Linked DNA regions of Homo sapiens. The protein of the gene in region 1 interacts with the protein of each later gene in a pairwise test. Each region holds a gene or a part of one and is shown on either strand. Other genes may lie near its edges. The genes, in order: SLC7A14, ERMP1, CBLIF and FAM20B.

The links.
Region 2: the proteins of SLC7A14 (region 1) and ERMP1 interact in binary tests that used the Homo sapiens proteins (3 or more experiments, as listed by UniProt).
Region 3: the proteins of SLC7A14 (region 1) and CBLIF interact in binary tests that used the Homo sapiens proteins (3 or more experiments, as listed by UniProt).
Region 4: the proteins of SLC7A14 (region 1) and FAM20B interact in binary tests that used the Homo sapiens proteins (3 or more experiments, as listed by UniProt).

Annotation. Positions count from the first base shown.
Region 1 is NC_000003.12:170,459,014-170,464,075, reverse strand, and holds the end of SLC7A14 (solute carrier family 7 member 14), read left to right. Parts: 3' UTR 1-4,528; downstream 4,529-5,062. UniProt on the Homo sapiens protein: Imports 4-aminobutanoate (GABA) into lysosomes. May act as a GABA sensor that regulates mTORC2-dependent INS signaling and gluconeogenesis. The transport mechanism and substrate selectivity remain to be elucidated.
Region 2 is NC_000009.12:5,795,093-5,802,126, reverse strand, and holds part of ERMP1 (endoplasmic reticulum metallopeptidase 1), read left to right. Parts: intron 1-798; coding exon 799-951; intron 952-3,118; coding exon 3,119-3,321; intron 3,322-4,194; coding exon 4,195-4,310; intron 4,311-7,034. UniProt on the Homo sapiens protein: Within the ovary, required for the organization of somatic cells and oocytes into discrete follicular structures.
Region 3 is NC_000011.10:59,835,484-59,842,517, reverse strand, and holds part of CBLIF (cobalamin binding intrinsic factor precursor), read left to right. Parts: coding exon 1-75; intron 76-1,193; coding exon 1,194-1,375; intron 1,376-5,166; coding exon 5,167-5,344; intron 5,345-6,508; coding exon 6,509-6,710; intron 6,711-7,034. UniProt on the Homo sapiens protein: Promotes absorption of the essential vitamin cobalamin (Cbl) in the ileum. After interaction with CUBN, the CBLIF-cobalamin complex is internalized via receptor-mediated endocytosis.
Region 4 is NC_000001.11:179,028,880-179,035,913, forward strand, and holds part of FAM20B (glycosaminoglycan xylosylkinase), read left to right. Parts: intron 1-6,358; exon of another isoform or gene 6,359-6,799; intron 6,800-7,034. UniProt on the Homo sapiens protein: Responsible for the 2-O-phosphorylation of xylose in the glycosaminoglycan-protein linkage region of proteoglycans thereby regulating the amount of mature GAG chains.

The DNA.
Region 1 (5,062 bases):
AGACGTATATTTAGTACATAAATGCAGAACCCTGACATGCTTTACTAAATTTGCCAATGAGTGACACCATGAAAAATAATAGAATTAGTGGTAATGACAAGAAGAAGTACTTCTGCATGATAAGAACAAATCTTTCCCCATGCAGGTAGAGGTTTGAAATAGCATAGATCATTAAAATCCACAGGTAAGCTTCAAACCTAGATTTTGCTAGCTACATGTGCCTGGCATATAGTGTGTATTCAAGAAATACCTGATGATTGACAGAATGAATGAATTGGAGGAAAATGAAATATTTATTCAACAATTACTTGTGGAGTGCCTATTATGTACTATGGCAGATATTGATATCGTAAGTCAGATAAAAATCCAGCTCTTAAGAAGTAGAGGAAATAGAGCTTGGTGTGGTGGCATGTGCCTATGATCCCAGATAGTTGAGAGACTGAGGGAGGAGGATCACTTGAGCCCAGGAGTTCAAGGCTGCAGTGAGCTATGATCACACCACTGTACTCCAGCCTGGGTAACAGAAGAATACCCTGTCTCTTAAAAAGGAAAATCAAATAGGGGAAATGGGATATATAAATAAAGAACAATAGTGAATGTGTCAGGTGAGATGACGGACTTGTAATGTGCTGTGGGGGGTCAAATATGAAGAAGGCCTTCTTCCTCTGGAAAGGTCATAAAGAATGTCACACTTGTGTTGGAACTTGTGAAGTGGGTAGAATTTTATCAAGTAGAAATGAGAGAAAGGCATGCCAAGCAAAGGATCGGCATGAATAAGGTCTACTAGTTTGTGGTCCTCTGGCTAAGAATTTGTGCTGTGCCTCCATTAAGAGAAAGCAAGGAGCTAGTTTGCCTGGAGCACATGATTTATGCATGACTTATACATGCAACAATAAGAAATAATGCTAGGAAGGCAGGTGAGGGATCACTCACAGAGAGACTTGAATGTCACACTGAGCTGACTGGCTTTCCTCGGGTGAGAGAGTGGGAAATAATTGGGGAACTGACGAAAGTGTGAATCCAGGAAGGCTGAACTTTAAGAAAGCTGAGACGGTGGCTTCCTTACCTATGCAAGGAACTAACAAGCCACATATACACTCCAAATTGATTTAACAAATTAAAGAGAAAAATAGCTGTACTTTGAGTCCTGTGTCTGCATTCATCATTAACCTAAGAAAATACAGCCATTTAATACGTGGACAAGCAACACAATTTAACAGCCACTTTAAAGTTTTCAACAATAGGTTTCAACAACTAAACCTAACAACTTTTTATATCTATCTAATCTAAACAGTAAAATCTCAGCTCCAGGTTTTACTGAGCTTGAGTGCTACTTTTTTTTTTTTAGACAGAGTCTCATTCTGTCACCCAGGCTGGAGTGCAGTGGCATGATCTTGGCTCACTGCAACCTTCACCTCCCGGGTTCAAGCTATTCTCCTGCCTCAGCCTCCCAAGCAGCTGGGATTATAGGCGTGTGCCAGTTCTACTTCTTAGTAACAAACTAGTAGCTAATCAAATGCCTACATAATGGTCATGATAAATCTGTTTAAATAAATGGCGGGCGGAAGGGAGTTGTTGAATTTAACAATCCATCCTTCTTCAGAATCTATAGGTCAGCCAGAATATAAATCTAGTAATTATTGAAAAACAAAACACAAACTCCTTCAAAGAAATCTCTCTCCTCTATTCTGCTGAAAAGGGTTGGTAAACCTGACATCCTTTCTTTTATTGGAAGACAAATCCAACATTTGTTAGACATCCAACATTTGTTGGAAGTCTACCTTACAAGAAACCACCTCTTATCTGCAACATAAACAGAAGCTACATCAGGTTGAAAATCCACATAGAAGACTGGAGAAAATTGCCGTCCCCTTTCGCACTAGGTTTTACCAGGGGCCCAAGATGTCAGAGGAAAGTCCGCGGAGGGCCAAACACAGGTTTACCTAATTATGAATCTCAGATTAGAATGTCTTATTGTGTGGAAAAGTCAGAACTCAGGAAATGTGTCTGAAGCCAGAGCGGGGGTCTGCTTACGGAGTCTACGCAGCGGGTAGGGGTCCACTATTGGAGTATAAACCTCAGGTCAGTGAGTAGTGCAGAGGTGTCCCTAACTTCCAATGGAGGGAAAGAGAGGAGAGCAAAGGAAACACATCCAGAAGTCGCCACGAGGGCTGTGTGCCAGCGCTCCATTTTCATGCTGTTTGGAACAAGACGTGTCAAGGAAGATGTTTCTATCCAAAGTCTTCATGGAGCCTCTGCTTCCCCTGTACCTGTGTAGCTCCCTGAAACTGAGGACCCACGTGTCTGCAAAGACCTCTGGAGATCCTAAGAGAGAGAGGCACCAGCAGGTAACCAGTGGTGGCCTGGCCACGAAAGAGTATTTGAAATTCAACAGTGAGCAAGTGCAGAAACAGCATCCCAAACCGCAGGCCCCACCACACGCAGGAACCAGAAAGCTGAAGTTTCACCAAGGAGTTTACTTAGTATTTCTCGCTGGGAATGGGGATGGGTAGCAAAAAGCCCCTTTCATGTACATAATGGTTGGTCCTATGTCCTACTTTTATTTTCTCTAAGAGTTTTAGAAGAAAGGCTGTTTTAATTTTTTTTTCTCCTTAAGAGCAACTTCCTTTTTAAAATGCTTTCCTCTTCTTGTCCTGCTTGAGTAATGCAGGCATCATTCTGAAATCATTCTGAAACAGCTAGGCAGTCGCCTTTTGCCAAAATTACTTCTCTAAGAAAATAGAGTGTTCTTTTTTTTAGGACTTAGAACCCACAAGGGGTGAGTGGAAGTTTTGTAGCCCATCAAAGGTGAATATGTGTTCTGCAGTATCAACTAAAACAGTGTACAAAATCATTAAACTGGGCCGGGCGCAGTGGCTCATGCCTGTAATCCCAGCACTTTGGGAGGCCGAGGCGGGTGGATCACCTGAGGCCAGGAGTTCAAGACCAGCCTGACCAACATGGAGAAACCCCATCTCTACTAAAAATACAAAATTAGCCAGGTGTGGTGTTGCATGCCTGTAATCCCAGCTATTAGGGAGGCTGAGGCAGGAGAATCGCTTGAACCCGGGAGGCAGAGGTTGCAGTGAGTCGAGATCACACCATTGCACTCCAGCCTGGGCAATAAGAGCAAAACTCCGTCTCAAAAATAATAATAATAATAATTTAACTGTGTTCTGCACACACAGAATTACAAAATCCCTATAGGACTTTCACAGATAGCTTTGGGCTTAAGGTCTTCGGACAACAGGTAGTTCTAATTTCTTACTCTTTGGGACATTTAGTACATGTTGGTACACATAAGGAAAGAAAATGGCTTATATTAGAGCTAGGAAACAGGGGCAGCCTGGATTTTTATGGTAGGAACTCACTCTGTGCTTTTTTTTTTTTCTGTTAAGTTTTCTTGACACTGACTTCGGTAACATTGGCTAAAGGGAATTGTGAGTCATGTGAATTTCACCTGCAGTGCAGACTTTAAAGGACTGTGTTCATTCTGATTTGGGGATGAAGAGAATGTTCCATGCACATCTATTGATTGGTCTTGGCAGTTGCTGATACGCTTGTCTCATTCACACTCCCAAAGGCGAGGATTTACCCTAGAAATCATAAACCCCCACTTTCCAAAGCAAAGATGCTGTTAATGTTATGATGGTGCATAAATACCTCAACTGTCTGGGCTGAGAGAGGGGGCTGCAGGTTTTTAAGAGAGCAGCTATAGTCCTCATTCCATGTAGTCACATCATCTGATGACAGGACTCCACATTCTAGCTTTTCTCACTGTGGAAAAGAAACGTTACTGTTTAATTAATATCCAAAGTTATAAATACAGCTTGTAAATTTTACTAACTTGTTTCTTTTTCGTTTCGTCCTTGAGAAGTACAACTTGCATTTACAGATGGTAATTCCTAGTGTTGTTCTCTGCTATCTTTTTTTGGTATGAAATTGCTGTATTTGTTAAAGTTTGTTCGTTTTGTGGTTTTTAATTCCCATTGGTGTGCTGTACAATGTAGTGTATCATGAAGAAAGAAATAATATGCAGATGTATTATGAAATGTGTTTTATTTTCAAATGTGTGGTGTTGACAATATATTGATTTATCAAGATACTAAGGGAAAATTCTAAATTTAACAAAATGTGTATATTTTAATAAATGCATAAAGCTTTATTGTGTGCCTTTAAATTTAAAAATGGGTTTATAAAGAAAGTCAGAAACAAAAGTGTCTTACTATAAAATATCCATAGTAATGTAAAGCTTTTACACGAGACTACCAAAAAAAAAGAAAGAAAAGAAAAAGGAGCCTTCCCATATTTTGTTAACCTTAACCAGTATCTGAAGTCTGTTACTTTTTTTCCATTCTTAAATGGAGATGAATAAGTGAATTTCGCCTTAAGTGTTTCAATTGTCCTTTGTAGAAAAGCCAGATAAATGAGTTCACTTTGAATTGCATTATTGTGGAAAATTCATTTTCAGAATAAAACATTTTAAAAAGTACAGCTAATCGACTAATAAAATTTAAATTTGAAGAAAGTCAGTGCCATCCTACCCCTTTAAATTTACTTTACTTCCATGAGGAGAACATGAAAGTTCCACTTTAGTGGGCTCTCAGAAGAACCTGACCTGGCGCTGTCTCCCTCTCACGTTCTTCTAACAAGGGTACAGGGCTCTCTCAGGGACCCTGCTCACTACACTGCCTCATTAATTACCCCTCTCCCGGTGCAGTCCTACTCAAGCTGCAGCCCCCCACACCCTCTGCACCATCTTATGTCTAATACAGAACATTCAGTTCATTGCCCCCATTTATTTTAAAGAACAATTAGAAGAACAGTATCTGCCTACAGTCCCAAACCAAATTACCATAGCATTGATGGTGGCTTAATTGATCTTACTTGTTGATGGCGCAGGTGGTGATACCTGGAGAAAAAGGTAGAGGGTGTAGCAGGGCCACATATTTTCCATATCACATGGGATGCAAAGAAACTGCCATATCTTTATTTCCTGCAACTCCCTGATCTCCCTTGCAATGGTCCACCTGCCTCGATAGCAGGGGAAGAAAAACAATCC
Region 2 (7,034 bases), on another chromosome or scaffold:
TCAGTATTCACAATATTTAAAATGTGGCTTCTTAGAACAATTTCAGATTTCACATAAAAGTTTCCCCAAATGGCTTCTTCAGACCCTGTAAGGGATCTGTGGACATACTCTGTGAGTCGTGTGTGTCCTTTACAGTTTTTAGTTCAGCGATTTCATTACGATTGAAAATATTTAGGATTTTCTAGATGCCAACCTTGAGACTGAGTCATTTACATTTACTGCCTAGATTTATTGTTTTGATTGTGTTGGCATTGGTTAATTTGTCACTTAGAGGGATAATATTACTTTGTAATGCAGTTTTTCCTCTTATGCAGGTCCACTGGCAGAGTCTTGAAGGTACATCTCTATGCCAGTTGAGATGAATTTAGTATTTTGACATATTTTAAAGCATTATGAGTGGAATTTGAGTTTTGTCCAAACAGATCTGCCTAAGCTTAAAGCTTATCTCTGGTTATTTAATGAATAATCCATTACATCTACATTTCTGTTCTTTTCGCACATTAAGGACAGCGACAGTCCTGAGTTTCCTTTTTCCCTCTTGGTTTTTGGCTGCATGCCAAAAAGGTGGCACCATCATGGCAGATTGGAGGCATCTGTCATTTTCTAGGTTCTCACCTGCAATGGAAATCTCCTAGAGTTAGTGCTTTGTTTACTAGATGTTAGAGTATGCTAGCACCTGCTGATAAATTTTCTTCAGGGGCTGTTAGGTAATACTGTTAAAAATAAAGTTAGTTAAAAACACCTTTCCACCACTAGAATGAATTTGTAATATTTCTGTGTTTGTGGTTTGTGTTTCAGATTAACTTCATCTACCTTGCCAAGAGCACAAAAAAAACCATGCTAACTTTAACTTTGGTATGTGCAATTACATTCCTCCTTGTTTGCAGTGGAACATTTTTTCCATATAGCTCCAATCCTGCTAATCCGAAGCCAAAGAGAGTGTTTCTTCAGGTGAGCAGTTTTGCATGAGGTATTTGAGATCTGGAAAGGAAGCCCTGTGTGTTTTGAGCTTCAGTAGTGAATAGCAAGCGCAGCTGACTTTTCTGCTGTTGACCTATTTAGTCATACTCACCTTTTTTGTGTGTAAGGCAGTGAGGAGAAGACTGACTGTCAAGAGGCATTCTTATCAGCTAGACATATATCTCCCAGGAGACTGAATTGGAAATGTTTGCTTGTTTTTATTACTATTCAAATTATAAAACTGCATCTATTTGGAAAAACAGGAGCAAATATTTATTATGGAATAATGAGTTTTTAGAAATATAGATTGTAAAAATGTATACAGGCTGAGTAAAATCTAAACTGTCAACTGGCAAAATAAAATTGATGTTTAGAAGTGCTAGTAAAATTAATCTTAAGTAACATTCAAAGTGATATGTGATAGTGAAACTATAACTTAGAAAGGGTTTAATAAAGTGAGTTTTAGGACTTACTTTCTTTTCTCTTTTTTTAAAATGGAGTCTTGGTCTGTTGCCCAGGCTGGAGTGCAGTGGAACGATCTTGGCTCACTGCAACCTCTGCCCCCTCGGTTCAAGTGATTCTCCTGCCTCAGACTCCCAAGTAGCTGGTATTACAGGCGCTCGCCACCACGCCTGGCTAATTTTTGTATTTTTAGTGGAGACAGGGTTTCACTACGTTGGCCAGGCTGTTCTTGAATTCCTGACCTCAGGTGATCCACCCACCTCGGCCTCCCAAAGTGCTTGGGATTACAGGTGTGAGCCACCACACCTGGCCAGTTTGAGGACTTATTTTAGATCTCAACTTTTTCTTCAAATTTTTTAGACCTGGTACTATAAAGCAGTAAGCCTCAATTCTAGTCATCTCTGTTAGAGATGGCTAAATTGTTAGTTTTTCTAAATTGTTTTTAAAAGTTCTCATACTACACAAATTATCTTATGCCTTATACCCATCCCTTTCTCATGTTTGTGAACACATACTAACATATTGTATATTTTGCATAATTCTTATTTGTATTTTATACTCTGTAAGTGAAAGATCCTGCTTCAAGATAACATATACCCTTAAGGGCAAGAGTCACATCTAACCTAATCTAGCCAAACAGAAATGCCAGAGGAATTATACCTAGATAATTATTCAAGGACTTAAAAAATTAAAAACACTTAGGAGGTTTTGAAAAGGGGCCAAATAACAATTCCTTGTTATAGTCCTGAAGGACACTGTGATAAATTTTATGTGAGATTTTACAATTTGTAAAACCTTTAGTGAAGAACGGATTTTTTTTTAGGAGGTTCAGTGTGTTTTTCATGATGTATTAAGTTTTATAATTATGTCAGTAATACTTAGGAAAAGCAGGATTTTTATTTTTAAAAAGTCATTTTCTGATTTGTTTGGGGGTTCTCTTCCACTGTGCCAGAAGTTGGCAAACTTTTCCTGTAAAGGACAAGATAATATTTTGGGCTTTGTCAGCAATACAGTCTGTTGCAGTGAAACAGAGCGAAAGCAGCAACAGAGTATACCCAAACAAATGAGTGTGGCCATGTTCAAATAATGGTTCGTATATAAAAACAGTCAGTGGACAGTTTGCCCTGTTGGCTGCAGTTTGCCGGCTCCTGCCCTATGCAGTGTTTTTTTTTGTTTGTTTTTTTCCTGATTGGTATTCTTCAGGCTGGTTTCTGCCGTGAATAAAGTTATTTCAAATGGAGCACGGTGCCTTTTCATAGAATTCTGTTAGGCACAAGGCTGTCATCTAGTGGTGAGCTGCAATTCCCACTTTTCTCTGCACATGAATTAGCTTCATAAAACACTAATAGGGAAATGAGTGTGTATGTATATATGTGCTTAGGATGTATTTGTTTTAAATCCTTATCTAAAAGCAGCTCTAACATTAACGTCTTTTAAGTCTGAAATAGTAAGTTTCAAAAACATTTTATAGGAATCCTAAATATATTTGGAAGATACAATAAAACAATAATCTATATATCTATTTTCCAGTTTAAAATAAAGAACGCTAGCAGTACCTTAGAAACTCTCAGTGTCTTATTCACTTGCTCCATATCCACATCATTTCTTGGTATTGTCATACTCCATTTTTGTAATCTGGGGTGGGAATGTGGGTGTACTAGTTGAAACAGTTTTTTCACTAGTCTTTTTTTTTCAGCATATGACTAGAACATTCCATGACTTGGAAGGAAATGCAGTTAAACGGGACTCTGGAATATGGATCAATGGGTTTGATTATACTGGAATTTCTCACATAACCCCTCACATTCCTGAGATCAATGATAGTATCCGAGCTCACTGTGAGGAGAATGCACCTCTTTGTGGTTTTCCTTGGTATCTTCCAGTGCACTTTCTGATCAGGTTGGTTCATTATTTTTCTGCTTAAGGTTAGTTTGTTCTCAAGTCTTGTCACCATATCAGTACTCTTATCATTTAAACTGCCATCCTTTAATATACAAGTTCAGTGGTGTTTGTACTATTTTTTCTATCATTATGAAACTTTTTTTTTTTTTTTAGTGGAATAAAGCACTCAGAAGAGTAGTTTTGTTTTTTCAAATTTTAAAAATCTTTTCTCTAGAAACCTGAGTGGTTAGAAAAGGTGGCCCTTCTAACTAATATAATAGCCAATAAGCATCTATCTCAAAAATTGTGGCCGGGCACGGTGGCTCATGCCTGTAATCCCAGCACTTTGGGAGGCCGAGGCGGGTGGATCACCTGAGGTCGGGAGTTCGAGACCAGCCTGACAAACCTGGAGAAACCGTGTCTCTACTAAAAATATAAAATTAGCCGGGCATGGTGGTGCATGCCTGTAATCCCAGGTACTCGGGAGGCTGAGGCAGGGGAATTGCTTGAACCCGGGAGGTGGAGGTTGCGGTGAGCCGATATCGCGCCATTTCACTCCAGCCTGGGCAACAACAGCAAAACTCTGTCTCTCAAAGAAAAAAAAAAATTGTTTTCTCTGGGAAGATTTTATAGCTTGGCAGTGAAGGACTGGATGAGAAGAAATAGGATGGGTGGTGGAATCAAGATCACCTAGGTTACTCCTTTGTTCTTAACATTGGGAAGGTTTTATTACAAAATAACCTAAATTTGTTGGAGTTGGCATTGCTTATCATGTCTGTCAGTTTATTTTCATACCCAAAAATGTGTTCATATATGCTGAACAGTTCTGTGAGTTACAGATAGCCATCAAATAATAAAGCACCCTAAAACTGAAGCTTCCTTTCTAAATAGGAAAAACTGGTATCTTCCTGCCCCAGAAGTTTCTCCAAGAAATCCTCCTCATTTCCGACTCATATCCAAAGAACAGACACCTTGGGATTCTATAAAATTGACTTTTGAAGCAACAGGTAAGTCATATAATAGTTTTTTCTCCCCTCCTTTATTTCTTAAACTTGTTAATAAGTGGCATGTATGTTTTTCCCTCAGATATATCACAGGAACCAGCAACTTAGGAAGAGCCTGTGATGTTTCTAAAATCAATTGAAGCTGGTTATGACTTCTTTTTTTTTTTTTTTTGAGATGGAGTCTCGCTCTGTCGCCCAGGCTAGAGTGCAGTGGTACGATCTCGGCTCACTGCAACCTCCGCCTCCTGGGTTCAAGTGATTCTCCTGCCTCAGCCTCCTGAGTATTTGGGATTACAGGTGTGTGCCACCATGCCTGGCTAATTTTTGTATTTTTAGTAGAGACAGGGTTTCACCATGTTGGTCAGGCTGGTCTTGAACTCCTGACCTCATGGTCTGCCTGCCTCGGCCTCCCAAAGTGCTGGGATTACAGGTATGAGCCACCACGCCCGGCCAAAGCTGGTTATGACTTCTTAACAAAAATTTAATAGGCCAGGCATGGTGGCTTATGCTTGCTACTCAGGAGGCTGAGGTAGGAGGATTGCTTGAGCCCAGGAGTTCAAGACCAGCCAGGGCAACATAGTGACATCCCGTCTCTACAAAATTAAAAAAAAAAAAATTAGCTGGGCATGTTGGTGCATGCCTGTAGTCTTAGCTACTTGAGAACTTGAGAGGCTGAGCTGGGAGAATCACTTGAGCCCAGGAGGTCAAGGCTGATAGCACCACTGCATTCCAACCTGGGTGACAGAGCAAGACCCTGTCTCAAAAATAAAAATTATTTTTATTTTTTGGAGCAATGTTAAGTTTACAGAAAAATTAAGTAGAAATTATAGAGTTCTCATATCCTGCCCCCCGATTTTCCTCTATTAATGTCTTGCATTAGTATGGTGCATTTGTTAAAACTGATGCACCAGTTTTAACACTGATATATTATTATTAATCGAAGCCTGTTGTTCCCACTCGGGTTCATTCTTCGTGTTGTGTAGTTCTATGGGTATTGAAAAATGTGTGATGCCATGTATCTACCATTACAGTATCATACAGAATAGATTTACCATCTAGAAATGCCCTGTGCTTCACCTATTTATCTCTCTTTTCTTCCCACTCTCCTTAGCAACCATTGGTCTTTTTATTATCTCTGTAGCTTTGCCTTTTCCAGGTATCATATAGCTGGAAGCACAGAGTATGTAGCCTTTTTCGACTGACTTCTTTCACTTAGAAGTATGCATTTAAGGGATCCTCCATATCTTTTTGTGACTTGATAGGCCATTTCTTTTTATTGCTGAATAGTCCGTTGTGTAGATGTACAGCAGTTATCCATATTTGAATAAGGCTGCTATAAAGATTCCTGGGCAGGTTTTTGAACTCATTTGGGTAAATGCTTAGGAGTGTGATTGCTGGATATTATATATGGTAAGCCTATGTTTAGCTTTGTAAGAAACTGCCAAACTGTTCTTTCCATTGACTGATTTCTCTGTTCTTTTGCCCATACCACAACTGTCATGATCACTGTAATTATATAGTTAAGTTTTGAAGTTGGGTAGTATCAGTCTTCCAACTCTTCTTCTCCAGAATTGTGTTTTGTCTTTTGCCTTTCCATGTAAACTTTAGAATCAGTTTGTCAATATTCACAAAATAACTTGTTGGAGTTCTGATTGGGATTGTATTGAGTCTGTAGATCAAGGTGGGAAGAAATGATATTTTAACAATAATGGCTTTTCCTATCCGTGTTGGAATATCCCTCCATTTATTTTTATCTTGTTTGATTTCTTTCATCAGTTCTGTAGTTTTCCTTATAGAATCCTTATATATATTTTGTTAGATTTATTTTTAAGTAGTTATTTTTGGGGGTGCTAATGTATTAATAAATGGTATTGTTCATTGATGGTCTACAGGAAAGCAACTGAGTTTCAGATTATTACCCTCATATCCTGCAGCCTTGCTATAATCACTTATTAGATCTAGGAGATTTGTTTTTGTTTTTGTTTTTGTTTTTGTTTGGTTTATTCTTTAAGAAGATTTTCTTTTCTTTTTCTTTTTCTTTTTTGAGACAGTCTCACTCTGTCACCTAGGCTGGAGTGCAGTGGTACGATCTCGGCTCACGGCAACCTCTGCCTCCTGGGTTCAAGTGATTCTCCCGCCTCAGCCTCCCAAGTAGCTGGGAATACAGGCACCCGCCACCACACCTGGCTAATTTTTGTAATTTTAGTAGAGACAGGGTTTCACCACGTTGGCCAGGCTGGTCTCAAACTCCTGACCTTGTGATCCGCCTGCCTCAGCCTCTCAAAGTGCTGGGATTACAGGCGTGAGCCACCGCGCCCAGCCTATTCTTTTAAGATTCTATGAATAGACAATCTTATCATCTGCAGACAGTTTTATTTCCTCCTTCCTAATATCTATAATTTTTATTTCCACTTCTTGACTTGTTACATTATCTGGGACTTCTAGTTTGATTTTGACAAGGCGTTGTGAGAGGGGACATCTTTGCCTTGTTCCTGATCTAGGCAAGCTTCTGGTTTCTTACCACTGAGTATGTTGTTAGCTATACGTTTTTTGGTAGATGTTTTTTATGAGACTGAGGAAGTTCCCTCTATTCCTAGCTTACTGAGAGTTTTTATCATGAATAGGTCTTGGATTTTGTCAGTTGCTTTTCCTGCATATATTGATATGGGCATGTGATTTTTCTTTCTTAGCCTTTTGATGTAATAGATGACATTAATTGATTTTCAA
Region 3 (7,034 bases), on another chromosome or scaffold:
ACTCTGAGGCGACCTTGCCGATAGCCGTCCGCTTTGCCAAGACCCTGCTGGCCAACTCCTCTCCCTTCAATGTAGGTGAGTAGGTCACCACTACCCCGAGCTGGGAACATCAGAGGCATCGTGAACTGAATGGTGGAGCTGGCAGGGAAGTGACAAAGGAGAGCGTCCCATGGAGGAGGAGCTAAGGATGTGAACGTGCCTGTGGATGGGAGATATTTACCAGATGTTTGTTGGGCAGGTGAATTGAGGAGTAAGTGAAGGAAGAGGGGGTAGTATTATGTAGAAACAAGGACAATTGATAATACTTGATATGTCTGGCAGCTACAGAATCTCCGCTGGGAACAATAGTAATGCCATTCAAGTCAGAAGTTCTTCCCAAATTAAATATGAATGTCTTGCTTCAGTTCTCCTCTGCATCCTCTCTTTAATCACTACTGATGCTCCCACACTCCATTCTTTTCGATGCTTCTCCTCATTACATCCAAATATCCTCTCTCCATTAAACAGCTACTCTCGGAACCCTAACTCGTGATATTTCCCTTCATGGCAACTCGGGGACCACCTTGCGTCTTTGTTCTGCAAGCATATGGCTGCTTGTGAATAGAAGCTTTTCCCTCTACAACATCATGTCCTCCTTCTGTCCCCTTCTATGGATAATGATCCTTCTCTGTGGGGGCCACTGTCACAGCCCGCATTCATGATCACCTTTTCTCCTCTGCCAACTCTCTAAGCAATAGTATTATCTCAGGTTTTCACTCCCTTATGCATGCCCCATCAGCAACCTCTCTTGTTTCAGTTTCTGTCAGACAAACAGGTGAACCACTGCTCTAGGATCCTCCCTGGGGGTTAAGAACAGACTGGTCTCCCTTTCACATCTGGGACCTCACACATTTCTGGGGCATCTCTGCCTCCAAAAATTTGGACTTATTTACTTCTGGTTGTCAGTAACACTAGCACCCTTAACGAAGTTATGCAACTTTCAAATGGAGATTTGGCCCTGCTGCTTACTTAATTTTTCTGAGCCTCCATTTTTTGTCTCTTAAATGGAGATGATTACAGGTACTGTTTCACAGGTTGTTCTGAGGAGCAAATAAAATCATGGAGCCAGAATATAATAAGCACACAATAAATGTTAGCTGTTCATATTGCTGTGATGGTGACTATGGTGATCTTATACCCTCTGTCATTCACAGACACAGGAGCAATGGCAACCTTGGCTCTGACCTGTATGTACAACAAGATCCCTGTAGGTTCAGAGGAAGGTTACAGATCCCTGTTTGGTCAGGTACTAAAGGATATTGTGGAGAAAATCAGCATGAAGATCAAAGATAATGGCATCATTGGAGACATCTACAGTACTGGCCTCGCCATGCAGGTAAACACGTGCTGGATGCTCTTGGTTGGGTTCCTGCCAATAAGCCTGGATTGCAGAATCAAGAGGCCAGGCTTCTACTAACATCTCTGTGAAAGTCCAGCTAGTATGACCTGAGATATATTCTTTGTGGTGCCTGGGCCTCAGTTTCTCTACTGGTAAAATGCAGGTAAGTGTTAATTCCTCCCTACCTCCTATGTAAAGTGTGAAAACAAATCTATATGAACTTGTTTCTCTTTCTTGGGAAAAAAAATGAAACAAATAAATCAAGAAATATATTAATTTATTATTAATAATGATCAGTTTATTTGTAATAGTTACAGACTATTACAATTTTGATGTATAAATAATAAGAATATTAAAGCAGGCCCTCTAAAAATATACAATTTTCTGATGCAATCTTACCAGCCAAGTGTTCTTTTTCAGTGTTTTACCTTGATCTAAAAATAGCAAGTTTATACTCAAAATGATTAAGGAAAATAACCTAAAGTTGACCCAGCCTCACAAAAACCCATAGTAAATGGTAAAGCAGATCTATCTGTCAGCCAAGTCCATATTCAATTCTGTGCTTTCACAGCATGCATTCCCAGGCTTGGATTCTGTAAGATGTGTTTGGTATTCATAGTTCCAAATCCAACAACCCACCCTACCCTAGTTGATTAGGGCAGCAGCCTCCATAGAAGACAGATGCACCAATGGTGGTGGGCAGAAATAACCAACTAGAATCAGAAACTAGCAACCATCTGTGGCTGAATCCTCTAATCCCAACTAAGAAGTTTGAGCTCCAGTGTCTCAAAATGTCCTATGGGGATTAATAGGACCAGGGACTCTTCAACTCAGAAAGCCCACTAAAGGGAGAATCATGGAATGGTGATGCCAGCCCTAAACCTAACATAGTTGCGGACTATTAGAAAGAAATTGTCTCCTGGGGAAAACAATGGAGACTAGTATTGAGATTTCATACATTAAAAATTAGAAAAGGATATAAGCAGCCTAAGAATTGGTTCATGTTAAACATAAGAGCAAAAAAAAAAAAATTTCCACTTCAATGGACCACATATAGAAGTGACTAATAAAAATAGAGTTCATTTCTATGTCACAGTCAAGGAGACTTTGTCATAGAACAAAACCCTGTTTTTTCCATGGCTGAATTTTACAAGAACATTCCCAGTGCTCTGGTCTAGAAGCTTTTTGGAAAGAAAAAGGCAGTCTGGAAGAGATATAAAAGATGGTTTGGGGATTTTTTTTTTTTATGTGTGACTCTCTAAAAATAACCTTGCTTCAATTTATCACCAGACAGTGAAGTGTTTACTTTTGCTAACTTGGTTTGTGAATTCTGTTTGGATTTTATCACCTGCCAAGTACACTTTGATAAGCTGTACCTGGGAATTAGAGCTTTTCCTATCAAAAGGCAGGACCCTGTCTACATCCAAATACCACAGGCCATGTGGATTTCTTGTCAGAATACATAATCTCTCCCTACCCTTTTTACTGCCTCTATCTGGAACTTATTTAGGCATCCTGAAATCTGGAATCAATAGGTGTCTAATATATAATATTTTCCTAATCTAAAATATTCTGATATAGAAAATCAAAGGGCTCTGGAACTATCACAATTTAGGTTTGACTCCCACACCTGCCACCATCTCAGACAAATATTGAATTTCCCCAGATTTTATTTTCCCCATAATAATAAGGTTGCAATTAGGTTAAATAAAATGTGGTATGCAAAAAAATGCATGCATAATGTAATGCTTAACAATTGTTCAAGATCTGTCTCAGCAGAGCAGTGATGCTAGTAAAGTTCCTTTTCAGCCTTTGTTCACCTTCTTCCAAGATGTCAGTACACTTCCAGTGGCCCAGGCCACACTCTTCCCTACCCAAAGACGCTCATGAGGCATTTCCTCTGTTCCAGAACTTCTCATCTTTCTTCCATGAATATCCTATTGCTTTCAAGTTTCCTCTGATAGGCGCTTATCTTGAAAAGGGATCTGATAGGCCAGGCGTGATGGCTCACACCTGTAATCCCAGCACTTTGGGAGGACGAGGCGGGCAGATCACTTGGGGTCAGGAGTTCAAGACCAGCCTGGCCAATATGGTGAAACCCCATCTCTACTAAAAATACAAAAATTAGCCTGGTGTGCTGGCAGGCACCTATAATCCCAGCTGCTCAGGAGGCTGAGGCAGGAGAATCACTTGAACCCGGGAGACGGAGGTTGCAGTGAGCCAAGATTGCACCAATGCACTCCAGCCTGGGCATCACAGCGAGACTCCATCTCAAAAAAAAAAAAAAAAAAGAAAGAAAGAAAAGAAAAAGAGAACTGATAAACTTCTTGATGGAAAGTTATTAATGACGTCTAACCACTTAATGTGTTATCCTCTCTAGAGTGTTGGCATTGGTGATGTGTAATCCCAATGAATATACCTTGCTTAGTGAAATTTGGGAGGTGCATATGACAAGTGGACAAGATATTGTTGCTGAGGAGCACCCACCTGATGGCCCTTAAAGCAACTGCCTTGTAAAGTGGCCTCTGTCCAGAGCCATGCTTCATAGATGCTGAGGTTCAGTGATGGTTGTCCCTGTCACAACTGCCCAGTTGTGCATACTGACCCTAGCTGAGACAGCCGTTTCTGACTCCTCTCTCTCTCTTCTCCCATTTCCTATTCCAAGCTTCAGGTGAACCAGTCATTAACAATCTCAGCCTATTAACATGCTCTGGTGGCCATAATCGCACTGTAAAGGAAGGGAGGTGGTAATGACAGCTTCCACATCACACATCACACATCACGAAATGCTTTTATACATTAGCCCCTTGGAACCGCAAATGACTCCCCCAACAATAGACAGAAGTTATTATTTCTATTTTATTCATGCGATAGATAACGCAGCAAAATAGGTGAATGGCTGAATGGCTTGGTGTATTACTCAAGACTCATTTTGCAAGTAACAGAAACCCAAATCCTTTTAGCTCAAGAAAAAAATGAGGATTTACTATTCACATACACTGGGAAGTCTAGGGCTGAATTAGGTGGTTTCAGGAATAACCAGAATAAAGGGCTCAAATCATGATATCAGGAGCCACTCTTTTTTCATCGTCCAGCCCTGATTTTCCTCATTCTTTCCTGCTGCAGGGCTTCTTCAAAGTGGCTGAGAAAGATGGTCACTAGCAGCTTACCGTTTATTTGCATGGTCCCAGTTGAATAACCTTAGCAGGAAAAAAAAATCTTTGGGTGTCCCAATGTCTGTATGTCGGGGAATGATTCTGATTAGTACATGTGTCCACCAATCACTGTCATCAAGGGGATGGTGACCACCATCAGCCCAGTCCAGGTCATGAGTCCATCCTGGGCCAGGGTTGTGGAGCCTCTGAGAGTCCTGACACAAGCACAAAGTGAGGGAAAAGTCCATCAAAGAGGGCACATGGCAATATGAAACAAGGGGTCTACTCCGTTTATGTGGCTAGACTGTCCTAGGCTAAAGCTCCCTCTGGAGCCCAGCTCTCACCCTCACTCTACATTCAAGAGTCGTTCGTAAATATGACTGCCTAATAGTGTTCCCTGGATCTGATCATTGCACAGTTCTGTGTCTGCTGTCTGACAGACACTGTGCTAAGTGGTGGGGACATAGCATTGAAGACAAATGTTTTCCAAACCTTACATAGCATTGGCTTTGCATTCTGGGTGACTACGTGATCACCATGATTAGTGATCAAGTTTATCTCTTAAGACATGTAAGAGCCAACTCTCAGCTATGCCTAATTACTCTTTCTCTCTCTTTCTGTCTTCCTTCCCAGGCTCTCTCTGTAACACCTGAGCCATCTAAAAAGGAATGGAACTGCAAGAAGACTACGGATATGATACTCAATGAGATTAAGCAGGGGAAATTCCACAACCCCATGTCCATTGCTCAAATCCTCCCTTCCCTGAAAGGCAAGACATACCTAGATGTGCCCCAGGTCACTTGTAGTCCTGGTAAGACATCCACCTCTCCTTATGTCATAAAGCAGCAACTTATGCCAGAAATGACATGTGGATCAATGTTAAGTGGCATATAGGCTTGTAATGTCCATTATTCCCATGTGGGCAGAGTACATCTGACTCCCAGTCCTTAAGAGTGTGTGCTAGCACACAGACATACCTTCCTGCACTCAGAACTCAGCCCCATATCTACTTCATTCAGCATATATTTACCTAGCTCCTACTATGTGCAAAGCATTTTGTGGGATACTAGAGGTAGAAGAAGCTCCATGGTCCCAGCTATCAAACAACATATAGCTTCATTTATTCATTTCACAAATGTACCATCAAACACTATGCATATCTTATCATATCTGCCTTTCACAAAGTCAGAAGACAGATGTGTAAACAAAAACTACAATATTTGGGACAATCGAGTAAGTATTAAATAGAAGTTAAAGCCACACACAGTGCAAATGCCAAAAAGAAAAATAGTGACCAGTTGTTGATTTTGTTTGGGAGGCTTCAGAGAAGAACAGAATTCATATTTAAATCGAGCCTTAACGATCTAAATATGAAAGCTCGATGCACGCAATATATCAATGAGATGGAGTGGAAACCTAGCATGCCACTTTTTAATTAAAAATATCTTTATTTTATCCAATTATGCATATAATTGAAAGACACTAAAAATTCAAACATTACAGAAATATGCATTTGGAAAGTGGAGGTCTTGCATAAAAACTTATTACTCCAGAGATTACTAGTGTTTGGTATGGATTCCTCAAACTCTTTTTTTTTAATAAAATGCTAACACAAAGCATCATTCCTCTTGCATTGCATGAACTTCCTAAGACAAGAAGCAATTAATAAGTTTCTCGTCTATCTCAATGCAGAATGTGGAGACCAAAATCAAGCAAACTGATCCCAATCCTACCAAAAACTACCACATTCACTCAACCCCTTAGGCTGCTTCCCAGTGATGTCCCAACCTTAACAAGGTGGCCATGGAGTTTTTGCCGGAATTCTATGCTAGTTGTCCAAGTACTTTGTTAAATGGTATGAAACTCACTACTTTCTCAAAATGTCTTCTGGGGTAAGTTGCCAATAACAGAGATTTTGCACCTATGATACAAACCCCATAATCTTTGACAAATGTGGCCTCTTTGCCCTTCACAGATCATGAGGTACAACCAACTCTACCCAGCAACCCTGGCCCTGGCCCCACCTCTGCATCTAACATCACTGTCATATACACCATAAATAACCAGCTGAGGGGGGTTGAGCTGCTCTTCAACGAGACCATCAATGTTAGTGTGAAAAGTGGGTCAGTGTTACTTGTTGTCCTAGAGGAAGCACAGCGCAAAAATCCTATGTTCAAGTGAGTATTACAAATGTCATTCATCATTCTCTCAAGGCCTGATCTGAATTCCCATTTTTTATCCATCCTGTTTTCCTAATTTTTTTCCTTTTGATAACAGATTTTTATTTAATAGCGCTTGAGCAGCTTTCAATCTAATAAATAGGTAAGGCTCTCATGAAAACTTAAATCATATAAGTCAACATATGATGAAGTTTTAAAAACAAAAATTCAGAGGAGATTCGAAAGTCCATTGCAGAGTAGAACAGGCAAAAGAGACTTTGTAGCTTTGAAACACAAAGAATAGGTACTATTTAGGAAGATGTGGGAAGAGGTAAGTCCAGA
Region 4 (7,034 bases), on another chromosome or scaffold:
AGTTCCTCTTTTTGTCAAAAGAAAAAAAAAGCGTAGAAAATGTGTTTCGGATTACTGTTCAAAATATTCTGTAGAGGTGTGTTATTTGCTTCTGTGATTATATGGTGTTCTAAACCACCTGGAGCCTGGCAGTAGCCTGTGCAGGTTCCAGTCAAGTGCAGCTTCACAACCTTGCTCCTACAGTCTGTTCTGGCTAGGCTAATTGGGCAGTTGGATTGATAGCCAGTGTTTTTGCATTAATAGAAGAACTTAGAGCTCTTGGCAATGGCCATGTCAATAGCATTGACCTGACTGCCCTTGTCCCTTATTTTGACGGTGGAAGAGGGGAGTTATCCCTTTTTAAGAGTACTTCTCCAGCAGTTCCTTCTTCTACACCTACATATATCTTCCTGTTTTCCTTCAGCTGTCTCTGTAACCCCAAGTACTAATGAATTCTTTAACATAGGCCTGGGCTGCAGAACAGAAGCTTACTTTGCTATTGAAACCAGCTTCTGACTAACTTACAATGTCAGCATGACTGCTCGAGCTGCCTAGAAGAGAAAATAATGCAAAGATCTCACTTCTGATTTGGTCTTTCTTACCAAAAACAAAAGAAGAAATGCCTAGCTTGGGATGTAAAGAATCTACATGACAGATGGGTGCGTCTGTCATCCCAGTGTGAGATAAGAGAAAAATGTAAGCTGATGCAGAAGAGACCTTGAGCTTTGGTGTGTGTTTAAGGTCTGTACTTTCTGGCAAGATAACCCCTTTAGAGAAGAGGGTGCTAACTTGGGCACGTTATAAAGGCAGGTCAAGGAATATGAAATTATGAATGTGTAAAGAGGACAGAACCAAGTACAGAGGGAGGCAGTGAAGTCTATCATTCCATGCTCTCAAATGTTAACTTTCTGCTTTATATACATAGCAATGCCTCATTTACCTAATGTTGGGGAGTAAGGTATTATATGTGAAAATTTTATTTTAGCTATACCTTTTGTGGAAAAATTTTTACAATATATGCTTTGGTTATTATTACTAGCATACTGGCAGTAGTTGAGTGAGGCTATGAGATGATCGAAAAATGTAGTTTGTTGTCCACTGTGCTTTTTGAATTATTGAATCTACTTGAGTCGATTCAGTAGTCAGTCTTTGTCTTCTTTCAGTGGTGGAAAGCTGCTCTTTTGCTGCTGTTAGTATCCTTGCTGCCCTCTTTTAAATTTGCAGCTTCTTATCTGTGGAGTAGGAGCTTCCTGACATTGAATGTAAAACAGCTAAATTGGCTTAGTTATGTTCTACCTGCTCTTCTCCAAGTTTTAGGGTATGAACTTTGTAACCACTTATTTTTGTTGCCCAGGGACGTTTTTGTTTGTTTGTTTCTTATCGTTGGTGTAGATAGTGAACGTGTGCTCTGTATAGGTGCATTTATGTTCCTGTAGTTTTCTGTAAAAAAAAAAACAAAATAATATGGAAGTACTTACTCGTGTGGGTTCTTGTTTCAGAAAGCACTGCCAATAATACTTGAAGATCTGATTTCAGCCCTGTCTTGTATCATCCTTGGGCAGTGTGTTAGACAACCTCCTTTCTTCCTTTTAGCATTTCCAAATTGTCTTTACTCTTAATCCCAGCCGATACTAGGAACCAGGTTGGCAATAGCAGTGGCCTTGAAAGGTGGAAGCAGGATATACAGAAGGTGGCAACTTTAAATTGAGTGTATATAATTGGTATACATATTCGCTATTTCTGCATCTTTTATATACTGTATACTTGAATTCATTGTAGGACTTATTTCCCCCTGTCTCTGAAAGAGGCAGTCTTTAAACCAGAGAGTTGCCAGTTTAGAAGAAATTCTTATAACCCTAAAGGTCTTTCTCCTTTGCCCTTCTCTCCTTTTATTCCACAAACACTTATCAGATGCCTCTTACAGGCCCTGCACAGTGCTAAGTTACTTGGAAGTACAAAGCGTGAGTAAAATCTATCCCATCCTCAAAAAACACAATATATTAGAAGAGACAGATGTGCCAAAAAAAAAAAAAAATGTGTGTGTGTGTGTTTGTGTGTGTGTGAGTTCATAGTATAACAGAGGGATCATGCCTGGAGCCACCTAGCCATAATTTCAGCACAGATCTGTTTGAGGTTCTCCTGCTTCTGAGAGTGATCTCCTGTGTGGGCTGTCAGCTTGACGTACCATAGAACATAAGGCTAAAAATGCGAGGTCTATTGTTGTATAAAGTTTATGTGGTTTTCCAAGAACTGTAGTGAATTGAACACTAAAGATGGAAAGCATATGAAAAGCTGAAGGAAAATGTTATAATATTTGTAATGCCGTATTTCAACACTATACAGGAATTACCTTCTATAATCTAGCCTTAAATGGTGGTTCTGTACTGACAGTTGTGCTGTGAAATACCTGGAACTTGGGAAGTGTCATTATACCTGGCTTATTTAAAGGAAAATGCAAATTGTTACTCATTTCCACGTAGTGTCAAGATTACTGCGTGTGTTGGTTTTTTAGAACAGAACTCGCTAGCAGTATGAGCTAAAGTTTTTTTCTTTTTCATTTTTCAAGGAAGAGGGTTGCCCTAAATCAAGGTTTAAATGGGACAGGTTGCAGAGATTGATTTTTTTTCAGTTCACTTATTGAAATTATTCAGTTATTGCCTATTTCATTTTTACTTTCACATCCAGCAAGAAAGACTACCTTAATGCTTCATTAATGCCTGGTAATGGTTTTAGTTGCCTTCCTTCAGAGGGAACTTGTTAGAGAATTTCATATAAGTGATTCTGAGTTTACAGATGTAAATAAATGTTTAAATGGAAGTGAAAACAGTAAGGAAAACCTGACACTTGGACCAATTTGGATTATGTAAGAATTAGATTTTCTACACCTGTACTCTTAAGTTACTCTTAAGGCTTATCTTAAGGGCTTTAGCACATGAAAAGCTGTCATCTTTAAAACACAGAACTAATTTTCCAAACTGAAAACAGTTGTGAAAGGCATTCTATTTTAGCCTTTTTTTGTGAAGTGGGATAAGTTCATGCTTCCCATCTGTTTCAGTTACATTGAGTGTGGTAGAATTGAACTTTGTAGAGAAGGGAAACAGGTTGGCCAAATTAGTGACAGCCTCCCAGTCTTCTGCTTTGCATGACACTCACTCTGAAGATATCTATTTGCCTAGTCTTATCTACCTCTCAAATTTAGGCAAGAATTTGGCTCAGAAATACAAGACTACTAATTACTACTAAACTCTTAGTAATGCAATGTGTGGATTTGGCCCCTCACTATGTAACTGAGAAGACAACATTATGGTATATTGATTCCAATGAGGGTTTTCTTTGTCATTTTTCTCCTCTCTGGAGGTCATCTGGGTTTTTGATATGGTGATAATGACTAGCAAGTGATTACTGTGGGTCATCCAGGCACTAATCTTAGCACAACACATGTAGAGGTCTCATTCTTTTTTTTTTTTTTTTTTTTTTTTTTGAGACAGGATCTTGCTCTGTCACCCAGGCTGGAATGCAGTGGCATGATCTTGATTCACTGCAGCCTCAGCCTCCCGAGTAGCTGGCTCATTCATTTTTAACAACCCTGTGAGTTAGGTAATAGTATTCTTGTTTCATTTTTTTATATGCAGAAACTGAGACCCAGAGAGGTCAGAAGTTAAATATCTTTCCCAAGACCCACATTAGGTGGTAAAGGAAGCATCCAGGCCTAGGCATTCTGAATCCAGAGGACATGCTTTTAACCCCTCTGCTACAGAAAGCTTATATTTAAAATAAGAAGGTGAATTAAGAAGCTATTTCTTAAGTGGATAATTAGCACAGAAAAGAAGAAAAAATATCTATAGATACTGATTAATGCTATTACTTAGTATTAGTTTTTATTTTTAGTTGAAGACCCTCATGTGAAGATGAAAGGAAGAATAGCATGCTGTTGTGGCAGGCAGCAAAGCAGGAGTGGGCTGGTTTTCCCAGGGTACTCAGCATTTACTGAGATAATAAACATGTAATGCTGTTTAATATTGGAGGTTTTGACTTTCTGGACATCTTGACTGTCACACAATACTAAAAGACTTCTGAATGCTCTTAATTTTACTTATCACTGCCACTAACCATCAGTAGAGACATTTATTTCTAGGGAACGGGGTGTAAACTCATAACAGTTAATAATAATATGCACAGTGCCCTACTGTCACTGCTAGTGAAAAATCAAAAGGGCAGTATACCAGACAGCCCACGGTAAAAGCGTGTGTGTGTCTAACTTTTTTTGCACTAAAAGATGTGATTTTTGCTATTTATGTTTTGGCTGAAGTACAAAAGTTAGGCTTTATAAACCGGACATGTGTCAGTGTGTGAATGTGTGAGGTTAGCCTTGATTGCTCTGCATAAGTCTAAGTAGGGCTCTGAAGTATGCAAGTGGATTTTAGTAAATGATCCAGTTGAGAATCTATTTCTTCTTGTGGTACCTTTAAGAGACTTTGTTAATTATGTATCTTTCTAAATATATACAATGAAAACAGAAAAATATAAATGACATGTAACTTTTATAATGAGTGTATTGCTCCTAGAAGCCATTAATAATAATTTACAAATATGACCTAACAATTTATCAAACCAATTTTTATTTGCACTTAATGGTTAATTTAGTGATTACTCCCTCCCTGAGATAATTGTTTTTAGTCACGTAATTTATTTCCCTATGTCTTCTCCCCTGGTATTTTTACTATCCCCAAAAGGAGTTGATAGGAGCAGAACAGATGTGAGAATGTTGGGTTTTACAAACTACCTCAAAATAATAGTGGGTTAAGACAATGATTTGTTATTTCTTTCTTTCTTTTTCTTTTTCTTTTTTTCTTTTGAGACAGTCTTGCTCTGTCACCAGGCTGGAGTGTAGTGGCGTGATGTCGGCTCACTGCAACCTCCGCCTCCTGGGTTCAAGCGATTCTCCTGCCTCAGCCTCTCAAGTAGCTGGGACTACAGGCATGTGCCACCATGCCCAGCTAATTTTTTGTATTTTAGTAGAGATGGGGTTTCACCATGTTGGCCAGGCTGGTCTCAAACTCCCTACCTTGGGTGATCCGCCCATCTCACCTCCCAAAGTGCTGGGATTACAGGTGTGAGCCACTGCGCCCAGCCTGTTATTTCTTATAATTATATAGGTCATCTGGTCTCACGTGTTCCTGCTCAAATGGTATAGGCTGGGGTCACAACAGTGACTACATTCTGCCAGACCACAACTGGGACTGGAATGTCCTTGAAAGTGTCATCTTCATGTCTGGCACTTCACCTGGGGTGACCAGGATAGCCAAGGGTTGGCTGGACCTCTCTCCATATAGATCACTTGGCATTTGGTAGTCTTAGCTTGAGCTTCTTTACATGGTAGCTAGATCCCGTGAAAGTGGAAGCTGCCAGGTCTCTTAAGACCAGGGCCCAGAACTGGCACACAGTCATTTCCACAACATTCTATTGTCAAAACAAGTTACAAAGCCAGCCCAGATTCAAGGGGAGGAAAAACAGACTCCACCTCTTTCTCTCTCTCTCTCTCTCTTTTTTTTTAATAATGGAGACAGGGTCTCACTGTGTTACCCAGGCTGGTCTCGAATTCCTGGGCTCAGGCAGTCCTTCTGCCTCAGCCTCCCAAAGTGTTAGGATTACAGGTGTAAACCAGCATGTTTGGCCCTGACTCCACCTCTTGATAGGATAAATTGTTAGTGTCTGTCTTTGCAGACAGTCTACAAAAAATTCAAATTCAAGTCTTACCTCCTATACTCACCAAACCTTCAGAGTTTTAGTCAAACCAATAATTACCAAAGTATTTTGTTAAAGGATCCTTGTAGTTCCTACTCAGGATCAAGGGCAAAGAGATTGTGTGCATAAATATAATTCTATACCAGTTAAGAAATCCTACCCCTTTGCCTCAGATCTCTTTTGTTGTTAGTCCTCTGCATGAAGCATTCTTACTAAGCATTTCCTTTGTGGTGCTTTGCATTTACAAGGCATGTTACATTCTACTTAAGTCATAAGAACCTGATTTGACCATTAAATTAGAAACACAAGAAGTGAAACTTATGTTTACTTTTACCATAACTTTCACTTTTAGTTGCTATGAGCAGAGGTTGGTATTTATTTCTTCTCTATGACCTCAGAGGTAGTATTGTGAGCTTGTCACTTAATCAGAGGGTGATTCAAGGGGACACTTCTAATAAGGCTTGGAATCTCATTGGTGGCTTGTAGGACCCTCTAGTAAGGTAGTAAGCGTTAAGGCCAGGTGTTCTCATGTTCCTTGGCAGCCACATACATTGAGATTTATCACATGATCTGTAGACCCCCACACCAACATGCTTTTCTGTAAATGTTCCTCCACCATCAGCCAGATTTTTTTTTAAGTACAATTTCCATTGTATTTTTCTCCAGAGAATGGTCTGTCTTCAGTCTTTAAGGACTCAGCTCCTTACACGGGCTTTGGTGGGGGTCGTGGGGCAGCACCCACAGGTCTAAATCGGGGTAGGGGTGTTCGGTCCTCGTGGGCTTCATGAGATTGATTCCTGACTACTTTGCTGTGAATTGCACAATTCACACAGTAATGTAGCTTCACAAACAGCTTGGGAAGCACATAGGCATTGAAGACGCTGCTTCAGAAATGTCCCTGACTGCTGTGGCCTCCACTATATTTCGAATGATGAATTTCTTAATGGCCTTGTCCTTAGGCACGCATCAGGCACAGTTCATGCAGCGAATGGCTGCACGTAACTGTGGCCCTTTTTGACATGACTTTTGTTCCTTCTTTTCTTTGTCATCTTGGAGGCATGGACCGGAGAGGAGATTCTTGAAAGAAGACTTTACATTAAGACCTCACTTTTTTTCTGTGGAATCTATATCTCTTCTCCCAAAACAACTTCATAGTCTTACGTTTGCCCTTATACAATATTTATCAAATGAGTAGGATGAGTGTGTTTGTGTGTGTGTGTGTGTAGAATGAAAGTGAATTAGCCGGCTGGGCGTGGTGGCTCACACCTGTAATCACAGCACATTGGGGGGCTGAGGTGGGCAGATCACTT